Regions from separate parts of the Homo sapiens genome. Here region 1 is linked to region 2. The links come from fine-mapping of genetic effects on gene expression. A gene starts in region 2. The other region holds a variant in brackets. All regions are shown on one strand. Distances are between the middles of the regions. Region 1 holds the start of VPS26A (VPS26 retromer complex component A). Region 2 holds the start of SUPV3L1 (Suv3 like RNA helicase).

Region 1 (8,452 bases), 58 kb after region 2:
ATCTCGGCTCACTGCAACCTCTGCCTCCCGGGTTCAATTGATTCTCCTGCCTCAGCCTCCTGAGTAGCTGGGATTACAGGTGTGCGCCACACCTAATTTTTTTATTTTTAGTTGAGACGGAGTTTCACCATGTTGGTCAGGCAACTTCCGCCTCCCGAGTAGGTGGGACTACAGCAATGCGCCACCACACTTGGCCAATTTTTTTTTGTTTTTGTATTTTTAGTGAAGACGGGGTTTCGCCATGTTGGCCAGGCTGGTCTCAAACTCCCGACTTCAAGGTGATCCGCCCACCTCGGCCTCCCAAATTGTTGGGATTACAGGTGTGAGCCACCGCACCCCGTGAGATCTTTTAAGTGCAAAAATACTACTCACTTCTTTTGGTAAAGATATCTTCAAGGGCGCATTTGGAATATTGCGATTTTCAGGATTAACTATTAATATGCAAGTTAAAACTCTTGAGCTTTTAAATAACTGGACTGCAATATATATGACTATAAAAACATGCTAGCAATTGTTTTTATAGTTTTCTAATCTTGGCCTAAACCTCCTATCACTGACTTTAGGTTAATTTAGGATTTTTCATATAATTTCTGAACCCAATATTGAGCATTACCAATTAGCAAAAATACATGGTAGATACATAAAAAGGCAACTTTTTAGTCCCCACTGAAGGAATTTCACTAAGTCCAGTGGATGTAAAGAAATGCAACTCATTGCATTTCTGAGGTGGAAGGCTGACTCTCAAAATTCATTCACTTAGCCCATACACAAGCAATGAAACAGCAAATTTTCATACATATATTACATCTGTGACCATTTCAGTGTTTTAAAGTTTTACAATTTAGTTTCTGTTTGGGTAACTTGAAAATATAAACTGCTCTTGAACATAATTCAAAAAAGCGTATTAAAAGTAATAATTACAAATGTAAGCAAAAAATAGGAGGACCTTTTAAGTTTTCTTTTCAAATGATATTCAATTAAAGAAGCCTGCCCTAACACTGACTAGGCAAGGTCCCCCAATACTTCCTTCTTAGTATCTGTCACAATTCTAATTTCCACGTTAAACAAATAATTTACACAAATAAATGTTTATCTCTCCCTACATTGTAAGCTACGAGAGCAGGTAGGCGCTGTTTCCATTTTACTGGGGTCCCCTAGGCACACCTGAGCAATTATTTGTTGAATGAAAGAAAAAAAGCTCTAAGAATGAACATGAATGTCTGGATTTTGTTTTGTTTTGTTTTGAAAGCAACATCATTACTGAAATTAAAAGTTATTTATTCAAAGTAGCTTTTTAAAAATATACCTGGCTCGGCCTTTTAAGCCAAAAGTCTCAAGCAGTCTATTGAATCAGTGAGCTTTGGGAAGAGCAGGTAGTATTAGGAGAGCATACAGTAGGCGCTAAATGAAGAGAACTGACGACTACTACCAGAAAATGGGTAAAATGAGATCTAACCTAGAGACTGCCGACACCCAGCTAAATACCACAATGCCCAGGCTAGTGCTTCCGCGGACTGTGGTGAGAGCACTGATTCCCCTCCCTCCTCTGCCTCATAGGCCGTTTCAACAACCCAGAGCGTTAAGTTCAGCGAAATAGCTTGCGGACGGAAATGAGAGCCAATGCTTAAAACGGCGGGCACCAAACGGGTGTCTCTGGAGTTAAAGATATCCCCCATTCCAACGTCCTTTTATTTTTCTCTCCCATTTTACAAGTGTCAACAGAAAGCCTGAACTGGGGTCATGAAATCAAAGAATGTCACCATAGTCAGGTTTTAAAATATCAGAGTTTATCAAGTTCGTGACACACTGAGTGCCCAAGTCCCCCGAAGAGTCCGGAGGTGGGGGGCTCCCGGGTCGCCCCACCTGGATGGAAGAGAGGCTGCCCGGGAGGAGAACAGGGACTGGCTACCTAGGAAGGGGAGGCGGCGACCAGCCCCCGCAGAGGCGGGGTCCGAGTCCCCAGCCAGAGCCCCAACAAGCAGTCGAAGAACGCGGGCAGAGGCTCCGACATGGCCAGGAGAGCACGCCGCCGCCCGTAGGTGCTCGGGCCTCGCCGAGACCGGGAAGAGGTGGCGCCGCCAGCTTTTCCCAGACCCAGGGGTGGCCCGACAGGCCTAACCCCGCTCCCCGCCCTGCTCCCCCGTCCCCTCCTCCGGCGACGCCCGGCCCGCGGTTGGCCGGCCCGCCGCGCGCTCCGGGACGAGGGCGGGAGGCGAGCGCGCTGGCCGCCGCGCACTCACCATTGTCAACGCCGCCGCCGCGTCCCCCCTACTCCACTCCTCTTCCCTCAGGAGAACTCCCAGCCCCGGCTCCCTCCGCTCCGGCGCTCCGTCACGTGACCTCGGGCCGCCCCTCACACGTGACCGCTCCCTTCCTCTCCCCCACCCCCGCACCCGTCCCTCTCCCAGCCTCCTGCCCCGCCCTGCTGGCCGCCAGGCACTCCGGGGAGAGGCCGCTTGGAGGCGGGGCCTCAGGCTCCACCCTTCGGAGGGTGGAGAGGGGCGGGCAAATTACGTCGAGTGGGCGGGGCCTGAACAGAGGCGGGTTCGCGGGCTCCTCCTCGCCGTCTCTTCGGTCACCGGACGAGCGGTTCCGTGTCCGGCCTCTTTACCGCACCCAGTTCCTCTTTGTGAAAGTTTGAGCGGCTGGGAAGGAAGGAGGAGAGGAAGGATTCATCTGGAGGCTCTCTCCTTGGCTGGGTCCTTGGGTTGCCGAGGCGAGTGGGAGCCCTACTTCCTTAGGCCTCGCAAGAAGAGATGTGCTCTCTTCGTCCACGGCGAGGCGTTCTGCCACCTTGCCTGAACGCAGTCCCGCTCCACCTCCTTCTGAGTCTGGGTTTTCTTAACTTGGCTTTCTCGCCTCTGAAGAGAAGACCAGTAGAAAAAAATCCTAGGGTACAACTTTCATTGCTTCCCAAAGTCCCCAGATGGCCCCTGAGCGACCCACCCTGAGCCTGGAGGGCTCACAAACCCACCGTTCCGCCCAGCCGTTCTGAGAGGGCAAAGGCGCTCCCCCGAAAGTCCCACGGCGCAGCTGAAGACTACGCTGGCCTGAACTGGATCCTCCTCCCTAGTGTAAGCCTATAGGACCTCCAGATGAGGAAAATACTGTGTGGGATTTCAGAGTATAGTGTTGAAGGGCCACAGTGCACTCTATGCATAACCAAAGCAGAAGAAAAATCCATCCCTGAACGCACTATAATTACCCCACCTTAAAACAGAAGTTTGTGAGGCGAGTCCATGAAACAGGTATCAAAAAAAATTTTTTTATACTTAATCCTCAGTGTGAGCCTCAAATTTAAGAGGATTGAAATCAGAGTATCATCTCTAACCGCAATAGAATTAAAATTAGAAATCAACCCAAACAAGCCAGAAAATTCCGGAAATATTGGAAATTAAGCAACATAATTCCAAATCTCTAGGTCAAAGAAGAGATCAATGGAAATTTAAAAATAAGTTGAGGCCGGGCACGGAGGCTCACACTTGTAATCCCAACACTTTGGGAGGCCAAGGCAGGTGGATCACCTGAGGTCAGACACGAGTATCTCTTGAATCCGGGAAGCGGAGGTTGCAGTGCCCGAGATGGAGCCACTGCACTCCAGCCTGGGCGACAGAGCAAGACTCTGTCTCAAAAATAAAAAATAATAAAAATAAAATAATTTGAAATAAAAGATAATAATACAACATATCAAATTTGTGGAATGCAGTGACACTGTGTAAAAGGAAAATTTGTAGCTTTAAATGCACATATTTGGGCCAGGCATGGTGGCTCACAGTCTATAATTCCAGCACTTTGAGAGGCCGAGGCGGACGGATCACTTGAGGTCAGAAGTTTGAGACCAGCCTGGCCAACATGGCGAAACCCCGTCTCTACTAAAAATACAAAAATCAGCGGGGCATGGTGGTGCACGTCTGTAATCCTAGCTACTCGGTAGGCTGAGGCAGGAGGATCACTTAAACCTAGGAGGCAGAGATTGCAGTGAGCCAAGATTGCGCCACTGCACTCCAGCCTGGTGACAGAGCGAGACTCCATCTCAAAAAAAATAAATAACTATAGTAACACTGATATTGTTGTCTGTTTGAACTGTGAAAAGAAAGCAGCAAAAACAATGCAAATCTTTAATTAATAAAAGTGAAAAATGGTTTTTTTCACTTAGAAGATTTGCCTGTCACCTTGAGAGCTACTCTGGTTCCTACCCACTCTTTTCTGGGACTTAAATATCAACATAACAAAGAGAATAGATGAAAATGCCACACAGGCAAAGAAATACTAGCGAAGCCAGGTATAAATAAGAGGTGGCAAAGAAAGTCACACTAGAAACCAATTTGTACTAATTATTTATTCTACTGATCAAAACCCAATCAATAATTGTGCTATCATAATAAATACAAGAAGCAACAGAATTGTTGAGCTAGTTATTTGTCTGTCTGCCTACCTATCAATCTATTCAGCAAGCCAGAATGTTAGAGCTAGATTGTGAGCAGTACAGTGTTTCACCAGCTGAGAACTGTGGCATCTCTATATTTGCCCTCTGCCAAAAAAAAAAAAAAAAAAAA[G/AG]GTGGGGTGTGTGAGGAAAATGTGACTAACTTACAGGGATTGACTTTCATCAACAAAAGTACCGAGTTTAGGTCAGAAAGTATTAGATGATAAGATAATCTGAGCTTTTATCAATCAGAAACCAGTTAAGAGAAAAATAGTCATTTGTTCAAATTCACAAAGACTAAAAATTCACATTAATAACTGTGAGAGTGTCAGGGAGCAGCTGTTTGCAGAGTTCACTGGCAAAGTTAAGGGAAGAGAATAAAATACAAATACACAAAAAGGATAAAGAAAGAAAATACAATTTAGGCCGGGCGCAATGGCTCACACCTGTAATCCCAACACTTTGGGAGGCTGAGGTAGGTGGATCACTTCAGCCCAGGAGTTTGAGACCAGCCTGAGCAACATGGTGAGACCTTGTCTCTTGCAAAAGAACAAAAATTAGCTGGGAGTGGTGGCATGTGCCTATTGGACCAGCTGCTCAGGAGGCTGAGGTGGGAGGATAGCTTGAGCCAGGGAGGCAGAGTTTGCAGTGAGCAGAGATTGCACCACTGCACTCCAGCCTGAGCAACAGAGCGAGACCCTGTCTCAAAAAATAAATAATAAATTAATTTAATTTAAAAATAAAATACAATTTAAAGCATGCCAGTGAAGTATAGAAACACTTTTTTCTTTTAACCTCCCAGAGCACATAGAATAGATTTTGCTTAAAAACTTTAGCGAGTGCAGCTGTAATCATGGTAAATATTCTTTTTTTAAAAAATTACAATTATAAAAGCCAAACATTTTTTCACAATATACAGTTTTTTCTTAAATGTACCAATACTTAATGTTTTATCTCACTATTCCTCTTTTCTTTTTAAAATGAGATATAATGTACATACAGTGACATATGTTAGTCTTAAGTGTGCAGTTTGATCAGTTTTGACAATTGCATACATTTTGATTGTGCATGGTGTCACAGGGCGCCGTGGCTCATGTCTATAATCTCAGCACTTTGTGAAGCCAACACAGGAGGATTGCGTGAGGCCAGGAGTTCAAGGCTGCAATGGTCGTGTCGCTGCACTCCAGCCTGGATGGTGGAGCAAGACCCTAGTCTCTAGAAAAAATTTAAAAATTATCCAGGTGGTGGGGCATGCCTGTAGTCACAGCCGCTCAGGAGGCTGAAGCGGGAGAATTGCTTGAGTCCAGGAGTTCCAGGCTATAGTGAACCACACTGGTGCGACTGCACTCCAGTTTGGGCTACAGAGCCAGGCCCTGACTCTTAAAAAAAAAGCATACATTTGTTTAACCCACACCTTCATCAAGATATAGATGACTGCCATCAACCCCAGAAAACTTTCTCACATCCTCTCACAATCAATCCCATCTCCTAGACGCAACCACTGTTCTGATTTTTTTTTGATATTGATTAGCTTTGTGTGTTCTATAGCAAAATAATAATGGAATCATACCACAAGTGTTCTTTTGTGTCTTGTTTCATTCCCTAAGCAAAATGGTTTTGATACTTATTTATGTTGTTGTATGCATCAGCAGTTTGTTCCATTTCATTGCTTATAGTAGTATTCCATTTTGTGAAGAGACCACAAAATATCCTTTTTCCTGTCAGTGGACATCTTTTTGCCCATTTTTTTCTATTGTGAACAAAGTGCTACTATGTACACGCCTTTTTTGTGAACCTAACCGAAGTGGAATTGCTGGGTTGGGTTAGGTGTATATTTAATTTTACAAGAAAATGCCACATCACTTTTTAAACTGTTTGTGCCATTTTATCCTCCCATCACGAGTGTGTGAAATATTGTTTCTATATCCTTGCTAACATTTGGTGTTGTCAGTGTTTCTAACATTAGTCATTCTTATGAGTGTGTGGTTTTCTCACTGTGATTTTAATTTGCTTTTCCCTGATGATTAATGATTCTGAACACTTTTTCATGTGCATATGTATCATTCACATATACCTCCCTTTGGGAAGTGCCTGTCAAGACTGCCAATTTTTAGTTAAGATGTTTATTTTCTCATTGAGTTATAGTTTATCAAATATTTTGAATATAAGTCCTGTATCAAATGTAGTAATTGCAAATATTTTCTCCCACTCTGTGTGCTTATTTACTTTCCTAACAATGTCTGTTGATGACTTGAGAATTTGGACTTTTACATTTAGGTGTAAAATGTAAAATGAGATCCATCTCAAACTAAATTTTGCAAATAGTATGGGGTAAGATTTGAGAGCTTATTTGTGTCTACATGGTTCCAGCACCATTTGTTGCAAACACTTACCTTTCCCCCTTAAATATCTTTGGTGTTAGCCGGGCGCGGTGGCTCATGCCTGTAATCCCAGCACTTTGGGAGGCTGAGACAGGTGGATCACCTGAGGTGAGGAGTTCAAGACCAGCCTGGCCAGTATGGTGCAACCCCGTCTGTACTAAAAAATGCAAAAATTAGCTGGGTGTGGTGGTGCGTGCCTGTAATCCCAGCTACTCAGGAGGCTGAGGCAGAAGAATCATTTGAGCCTGGGATGCAGAGGTTACAGTGAGCCAAGATTGGGCCATTGCACTCTAGCTTGGGCAACAGAGTGAGACTCTATCTCAAAAAAAAAAAAATATATATATATATATATGTATATATATATATGTATATATATATATACATATATATATGTCTGTATAGATAGATAGATATATCTTTGGTGTTTTTGTAAAAAATCTATTGACTGTATAATTGTGGGCCTATTTCTGAAATTTCTAGTCTTTTCCATTGATCTGTTTGTCTATATTTATGCAATACTACACTGTCTTCAATACAATAGCTTTATAGTAAACCTTGAAGTAAGGTACTGTAATTATTCCAACTTGTTATTTTTCAAAAATGCATTGGCTATTCTAAGTTCTTGTATTCCAACATACATTTATAAATTGTGAATCCACTTCTCCAAAAAAAAAAAATCTACTGCTTGGAAATGGTTTGAACCTACACCTTAATTTGGGGAAAATTGGTGTCTTAACAATATTGGGCCTTGCAATCCATGAATATGGTGTATTTATCTATTTTTCTAAATAAGTAGAGAAAACAGCTTTAATTTCTTTTGGCAATGTTTTGTAGTTTTCAGTACCTTTCATATCTTTTGTTAAATTTTTTTCTAAGCATTTATTTTTTGACACTATTGTAAATTGTATTAATTTTTTTTTTTTATTTTCTGGCCTGGTATGGTGGCTCACACCTGTAATCCCAGCACTTTGGGAGGCCGAGGCAGGAGGATTGCCTGAGCCCAGGAGTTCAAGACAAGCCTGGGCAACATGGCAAGACCCCGTCTCTATACCAAATTTAAAATTTTGTTTTAAAAAAATATTTTCTAATTGTTCATTGCTTGTGCATGTGTTTGTGTGTGACTTTTCTACAATAACTTGGTATCTTGAAACCTTGCTAAATTTCTCTGATAATTTCTTCCCATCTTTTCCTCTCCTCTTTCATCCTGGGTCTTCTATTAGTTGCATATTGGAATTCCTGAATTGATTATGTCATTTTCTTATCTCTTCTTTTCTATTTTCCATCTAGTTGTCTCTTTGTTCTCCTTTCTAAATAATTTCTCCAATTTTATGTTCCAACTCTTATGATTTTTTTTTGAAATGACTGTGTTATAGTAGCCAGCCTCCAAGATATTCCCCGATGATCCTTGCCTTCCAGTATTTACACTCCTTTGTAGTCCCTTCTCAAATGTTGTCAACACTGGTCTGTGTGACCAACAGAATAAAATGGAAGTGATGTGTGTGACTTTCACGGCTGCTTCTGACTTGCTTTCTCTTGGGTCACTCATTCTGGGAGAAGTCCAATGGAGAGGTCCACATAGTGAGGAACTGAGATCACCTGGAAATAGCCAGAACTAACTTGCCAGCCATGTGAGTGAGCCATCTCAGAAG
Region 2 (8,000 bases):
TGTGTGTGTGTGTGTGTGTATTTATATTTCAGATCACAGGCAGATTTCTGGGTCTCTGTTACTTTGTGCCGGGTAGGAACAACAGTTTCTTTTTTTCTTGGAGACAGTGTTTCACTCTTGTTGCCCAGGCTGGAGGGCAATGGCGCGATCTCAGCTCACTGCAACCTCCGCCTTTCGGGCTCAAGAGATTCTCCTGCCTCAGCCTCCCAAGTAGCTGGGATTACAGGCATGCATCACCATGCACCATGCCCGACTAATTTTGTATTTTTAGTAGAGACAGGGTTTCTCCATGTTGGTCAGGCCGGTCTCGAACTCCTGACCTCAGGTGATCTGCCAGCCTCAGCCTCCCAAAGTGCTGGGATTACAGGCGTGAGCCACTGCACCTGGCCAACAGTTTCTTGGTATCAAGGGTAGAAAAACCAATGACAAATAAAAGATTGGAAAAAGGCACATGCCATCATTGCTTGGGAAAATTCTGCTGACCTATAAACTCGATACAAACTAAAGACAGATCACATTTATTTAGAATTAACCTATTTTCTGTGACTAATACTACGGTGTTATATAAGATTCATGCTGCTTTACTCAAATTAAAATGCTTCCAAAATGTGAAATTTCTCATTATGCTAAGTAAAAGAAACCAGTTACAAAAGACCAATACTATATGACACTATAAATATGAAATACACAAAACAGGCAAATCAACAGACAGAATGTGGATTAGTGGTTATCTGGAGCTAAAAAAAAAAAAAAGACACTGGGGACTGGGGAACTAGAGAGTGACTTGCTAACAGATATCAGGTTTCTTTTTAGGGTGATAAAAATGTTCTAAAATGAAATTATGGTGATGATTGTACAATCCTGCAAATACACTAAAACCCAGTGAATTATACACTTTTAAAGGGTGAGCTTTCTAGTATGTAAATTAAAATTGTATCTTTCTTTTTTTATTTGAGACAGGGTCTCACTCTTGTCACCCAGGCTGGAGTGTGGTGGTGCAATCTCGGCTCACTGCAACCTCTACTACTACCCAAGCTCAAGCAACCCTCCCACCTCAGCCTCCCAAGTAGCTGGAACTACAGGCACACACCATCATGCCTGGCTAATTTCTGTATTTTTTGTAGAGATGGAGTTTTGCCATGTTGCCCAAGCTCGTCTTGAGCTCCTGGGCTCAAGCGATCCACCCTCCTGGGCCTCCCAAAGTGCTGGGATTGCAGGCACGAGACACTGCGCCCAGCCTAGTCTTTTTAAAAGAACATTCTGACTGCAGGTAGAGAATAGAATGAAGGGATCAAAGGCATATGAGGAGACACATAAGGGGCTATATGTGCAGTCCAGTCAAAAGATGGAAGCTGGCAATTTAGACTAAGCTGGTTGCAGTGGAGAATGAGGGAAATGAATGAATCCAACATTTATGAGGTAGAATCAACAAGACTCATTAACTGGGCTTTCTCTGATTGTTAGATGTAGGGGTGAGGGATGGAAGAACAAAGACTACCAGGTTTTGACCTGAGCACCTGCAGGAGCAGGCTGAGGGGAAGGTAAGTTGTCTTGACATGCTAAGGTGAGGTGTGTGTAAGAAAGACAAGTGGAGACACCTGGTAGGCAGCGAGATATATAGGTCCAGGGTGAAGGAGAGAGGTCCAGGGTAGAGACAAAGATCTGAGAGGAATACTGAATTAGTGAGGGGAGAGAGAGAATGAGACACCCCATAGACAGCACAGAATAAGGCAGCAAGGTGACGCAGGACAAAGCCTTTAAGTACCTCAACTTTTTGGGTTATGAGTAGGCAAAAGAGATTGAGAAGTGACAGCTTCTTGTCCTGATTGCTAAGCTAAGTGGAAATCTGACACCTTAACCACATGGCTATATCAGAGTGTAGTAATGCACCATCTTCTGTAGCCCCTCCTGCCATGCTGAAAAATCATTCTAGTAAATTCAACATCTGGACCAATCCCAGTCAAAGGAGATGAAAAATCACCTGGCACACAGACCCAATGAAGTATCTAAGGATTCTCCACCAGAAGAAAATCTAGTGCTGACAAACCCATGTCTTTATTCTATCTTCTTACAGGAAGCAGCAAAGACATTTACATTTTCAGGTGAATTGGAATAGCTGCAGAAAATAAGAATTTATCAATATTTGAATACAATAAGGCAAATTATCTCATCCAAATTACCTTATGCCTTCAAATAATATAAAATAATGGAAAATTGTTCTTTAATGGGTAAACTATTGTTTGAGTTTCAACTCTGCAAGATGAAAAAGTTCTCATCTATTTCGCGACAATGTCAATATACTTAACGCTAGTGAACTATGTGCTTAAAAACAATTAAGACTGGCTGGGTGCAGTGGCTCAGGTCTGTAATCTCAGGGCTTTGGGAGGCCATGGCAGGAGGATCCCTGGAGCCCAGAAGTTTGAGACCAGCCTGGGCAACATAGCAAGACCCCATCTCTACAAAAAATTAAAAAATTATCCAGGCATGGTGATGCACGCCTGTATTCCTAGCTACTTAGAAGGCTGAGCCAGGAGGATTGCTTGAGTCTGGGAGTTGGAGGTTACAGTGAGCTATGATCATACCACTATACTCCAGCTTGGGTAACAGAGCAAGACCCTGTCTCTAAAAAAAAAAAAGTAAAGAAAAAAAAACTAAAAAAAAGCTTAAAAGAGTAAATTTTATGTATTTTTATAATTTAAAAATAAATAATAGTATAATTACATTATTAAAATAACACATTCTCTGCTATGGTTTGAATGTCTTCTCCAAGACTCATATTGAAATTTAATTGCTATTTTAACAGTTGAGAGGTGGAACCTTTAAGAGGTGATTAGGACATGAGGAGTTTGCCTTTGTGAGTGGATTAATGCCATTATCACAGGAGTCAGTTATCACAGGAAAAAAGGATAAGTTCAGCCCCCTTTCTCTGTCTCACAGGCTCATTTGCCTTTCCACCTTCCACCATGTGATGATGCAGCCAAAGGCCCTCATCAGATCCCGGCTCAGAACCATGAGTCAAATACACCTCTATTGTTTATAAATTACTCAGTCTCAGGTATTATGTTATAACAGCAGAAAATAAAGACAGTCTCCCAGCACCAAGTAAAGTGAAAGGCCTTGCTTAACACTGGAAGAATATGTCAAAGAATAACATATACTGTGAGTTCCATCACATGTTTAGTGAAAGTACTGTACTTCTGCTCTGAAAAACATATTGTAGTCTATATTTTAGATTTACAATAGGAGGCACCAATGTCGCTTGTTGAAGTGAGACATTTCTCCTCCTATTCCTGGAGACAATTCTGGATAGCATTTCCTCAATCTCCCAGTTTCATATGGTCAGAGGAAACTCCCTTACCTCCCTAATCATCCCGAAACTCACCTTGAAAACATTCACATGCCTCTCTGTCAACGAATCCATCCAAACTTAAGTTTTGCTGAGCAAAGCCCGCTGCCACTAACTGATGCTACCTCTTCTTTTCTCTCTGGAGCCGGGGACACCCTACCTTGTTCTAGACCTTGTCATGTTCTACCTTGTATTACAGTTCACTTTCCATACACGTGTCCTCCCCCACGATACCGTTACGTTTCTTAAGAGGGGATCTGGATCTGAGTCTGGTTCCTCTTGGCAACCACCACACAGCCTAACAGCGTGGTATGAGTCGGCGCCTCCTCAATGATAAAGAATCCTAAAAGGAGTCTCCGCTGGCTTTTCACTGCCACATCCCATTCGGGGGTGGGAGAGAAACAAAGAATGCAAGAAAGAGCGGGCGTCCACCTAACAACTCAAAAAAGTCAAATCTTCCCAACACATGAGTGTCTAAACCATTCAGAGAGCAGGGCAGTAAAAGGGAAAAGGCCGCTTCTGGGACGAGGCGTTAAGAATTAATCAGATACAGTCCTAAGCCGTTTGAGGGGCTCACACACCAGCGAAGGAGGCAGACACTGAGAGGCACGATGACAACACTCGATGGGACCTCGGATCCCCAGGGGAAGGGGATGTAGCTTCCTCCCAACCAGCCTCGGCCCAGCAGACACCACCCTCTGCCGCCCTCAGTAGTTCCCGCACTCACTCTTGTCCAGAGGCCGGGTTAGCTCGGCCCCGACGTCGCCGTCGGCGCTGGGGCCCTGAGGTTTCACAGTCAGGGGCACGAACAAGGACGTGTTTGGTATTTTGGAGCCACCGGAGGCAGAGGAGGAGGCGGTGGCAAGGACAGAAACTTGCCCCAGAACCCCGGGAAAGGGCCCAAAGTGGGGACGAAGGGCAGAGCAGATGGCTGCCCGGTGGCCAGCCTGGCGCCCCGCCGGGAGCCGAGCCCACAATAGGGCACGGGAGAAGGACATCGAGGCCGCAGGTTCTACACTGTCTGGCGCAGCCGCGGACACGGCGGCGGACAGTGACGCGCACCTCCAGCGCCTGCTGTCCAGAAAGACCCAGGCCGAGCAGGTAAGCTGCCCGGGAAAACGCCTGACCGTTAAGGAAAACGCCGTGCCGTGAGGGTGTTCTTTCAGGGAAAAAGAAGATTAGCAGGCAAAACCACTAGAGATAATTCTCGTTCTCTTTCTCTGTTTTGTTGGTGATTGGGACCACCTTTCCCTAAAGAAGGGAAAATAATCAGGCATCTTTGGGATGTCATACATGAGCGGAGGGGGCCTGCTAGTCGTGTCACGTGATGCAAACTAGTACTTTGGTAAGCAAGTGTCCAGAAGCACGTGGGTGAGCAGTGAGAGAATGGGTGGTGGAGCAGCAACTGCGAATGCTCAGGGTACGAGTATGTCTTGCGGACTCAAACACTAAATAGCATTTCCCAAAAGTTTCTTGCATTGTTAACCGTCATTTCCTGATATGATAACGTTAGCGATAATAACTTGATATGCCCCTCAGAAATGTTGCTAAGAAATATTGTTGCACTATTAAACCCCTTGTATTACGTAAGTACTTTTGCTTTAATGTGAGCAGTTTGCGTACATCATCCTAGCAGCTATGACCACATAGTTGTGACCACATGGCAAAAATACGTGCTCTGTACCCCAGCCATAGTTTCGTTCCATTGCATTTGTTGAATACCGTGTTCTCATGTGAGGCTGCAACATGTTAAATTCACAAGTTTAACCCGGGCGTGGTGGTTCACGCCTGTAATCGCAGCACTTAGGGAGGGCGAGGCCGGTGGATCATCTGAGGTCAGGAGTTCGAGACCAGCCTGGCAAACATGGTGAAATCCCCTCTCTACTAAAAATACAAGAATCAGCCGGGCGTGGTGGTGCACACCTGTAATCCCAATTACTAGGGAGGCGGAGGCAGGAGAATCGTTTGAACCTGGGTGCCAGAGGTTGCAGTGAGCCGAGATCGGGCCACTGCTCTCCAGCCTGGGCAACAGAGTGAGACTCCGTCTAAAAAAAAAAAAAATTCACAAGTTTAGCATCTCCATCCACATCTCTTTATACTTACATCATTAAGATCTTACAACTTGAAGGAACGTGTTATGTAATATACAATACTGTATGTCTAATAGGATTCCAGTAACAATTTGCCACGTGCCTTTGATTCACAAAATAATTTTTAAACATCAGGGATACAAGGAGACAGTCCTTTGCTTTCAAAGGTTCTGATCTGGTTTTGGTGGTAAGAACAGTACACGTTAAATAATGCACTTATTACTCTAATAGACTAATGGCAGTTCAAAGAAAGGAGCAATTTGAGAGTGGTAAGGAGATTTCTGCCAGACTTAAAAGTAAAACATAGAGAAGCGGTAAGTAAATTCTAGTCAGTGGAAACGATGTAAGCAGAGGCTTAACTAAGGAAAAGACATACTGAAAAAAATTTAAGTAACAGAGTTAACGCAGACCTAATTCTATGGCTTACAAATAGTGATTATATTTTTGAGAAGAGAAATCATTCATTAGGAAGTACCTAGGATAGACTAGGATAAACACAAATATGCAGGGAGGAAAATTACAACTTTATCAACAGTTCTAGCTGAAGGTGGTAGATTCCTGTGTCTGAGTTATGATGGAGACCATGTATGTGGAATGAGAGGTTTTACAAGACTCCTTAGATAATGTAGTGAGTGACTAAATATGCTAGAAAATGTTAATAAACAATGATGTCTCGTCAGATTTGGAAACTAGGAGAATGAAGGATAAACCAAACGTTTAATACGTAACTGAGGCAAGCACTATGTTGTTCCTTTTAATCTTTTAATATGCTTGACAACAATTTAGAGGTATTATTGTCACCAGGTTAACTAACTTGCCCCAGTAAGTGGTAGAGTCAGATACAAATCTAAATCTTTTTTTTTTCTTTTTTTTGAGACAGTCTCACTCTGTTGCCCAGGCTGAAGTGCAGTGGTGCAATCATAACTCACTGCAACGTCCACCTCCCAGGCTCAAGCAATTCTCATGCCTCAGCCTCCCGAGTAGCTGGGACTACAGGCTTGCACCACAATACCTGGCTAATTTTTGTATTCTCTTTAGTTTCACCATGTTGGCCAGGCTGGTCTCAGAACTCCTGGCCTCAAGTGATCCAGCTGCCTCGGCCTCCCAAAGTGCTGGGATTACAGGTGTGAGCCACCGTGCCCAGCCAGTCTTTCTGATTTCAAAGCAAATAGGTGGGCTTTTTGGACAGGAGCAGCATATTAGGCCAGAATCAACATTTGTACGAGTCTTTTTTTTTCTTTGGAAGGGTGATCGTGAACTCCTGGGCTCAAGCAATCCTGTGTCAGCCTCCTGAGTAACTGGAACTACAGGTGCATGCCACAGCACCTGGCAGTTACTAGTCTTACAGATCTAGCCCAACCCTAGTATAGTTTTACAGAAAAAAAAAATCCTCAAAACTATTTTAACTGTAATTTTGTTTGCACCTCCTTGCAGGTAGAAAATGCAATCTGAATTTTATGATAGCACATACAGGCTTTCCCTTTCAGCCATTCATTAAGTTCTACTATAAACATTGAAATGGGAAAATTCAATATAAAATTTTTGCTTTTACAAAAAAAGATGTCATATCTATACTGGTTATGTCATATTTATAGCAGTAAGTGTAATCAGCACCTAACACATATTAGAGCCTCTATAAATGTTTTATTTTGCTTGTTGAATGGATTAATGCAGTAACTATGTAACTGGTATCCTCCTATACTTTGCCGTAGCACCATAATGATCTTTTGAAAACACAAATCTGGTAAGTTACTCCTGCTTAGAGTCCTTTGGTGATTCTGAATAAATGTTCAGATAAAGCCCATATTCCATCGTATGGCATCCAGGTTCTGTCCTAAATTGGTTGGCCCTATATGCCTCTTCCAGCTTTATTTCTACTCCCCACATCTACCATTCTATTCATGCTGGAACTATACACCAGTTATATCATCGTTTCTTACCTCTGCACCTCTGAACACACTGGGTGCTTCTCTTACATATCACAGGTCCCAGTAGAGGCTCTATCATAGAATGAAAACTATCGTAATTGTGTCTCTGGGTCAGTGGTTCTTAAACGTTAGAGTGCAACAAGATTGTTGGGCCCCATCCCTGAAGTTTCTGATTCAGTAGATCTGGAGTGGGATCTGAGAGTTTACATTTCTAAAACATTTCAGATGATGCAACTCTGCTGGTCTGAGACCACACTTTTGAGAACCACTGCTCTGGATTAAAGTTCCTTCAGGATAGGGCCAAGATAACACTTACTCCATTTTGCATTGCTATAACAGAACACCACAGACTGAGTAATTTGTAAAGAAAATGAATTTATTTCTTTTAGTTCTGGAGGCTAGGAAGTCCAAGATCAAGAGGCTGGCATCTGGTGATGGCCCTCTTGACATAACCTGGTAGAAGGCATCACATGGCCAGAGAGCAAGACCTGTGTGTCAACTCAGGTTTCTCTTTTCTTACGAAGCCACCAGTCACATCATGGGGGACCCACACTGAGAACTTTTATCTAATCCTAATTACTTCCCAAAGGCCTCACCTCCAATCAATATATGAATTTGATGATTAAGTTCCAACAC

The links.
Region 1: its variant is fine-mapped to the expression of SUPV3L1 in lymphoblastoid cells (TwinsUK, PIP 0.95).

Annotation. Positions count from the first base shown.
Region 1 is chr10:69,118,069-69,126,520 of GRCh38, reverse strand. It overlaps VPS26A (VPS26 retromer complex component A), which reads right to left and starts at 2,343. Exons shown (of 9, transcript NM_004896.5): 1 at 2,241-2,343. The coding sequence starts at 2,243. RefSeq lists enhancers at 1,379-1,885, 2,750-3,109 and a silencer at 2,090-2,489. The variant G/AG (reference allele first, on the strand shown) is at 4,557.
Region 2 is chr10:69,176,636-69,184,635 of GRCh38, reverse strand. SUPV3L1 (Suv3 like RNA helicase) reads right to left here and starts at 4,402. Exons shown (of 15, transcript NM_003171.5): 1 at 4,074-4,402. The coding sequence starts at 4,344. RefSeq lists an enhancer at 4,318-4,687.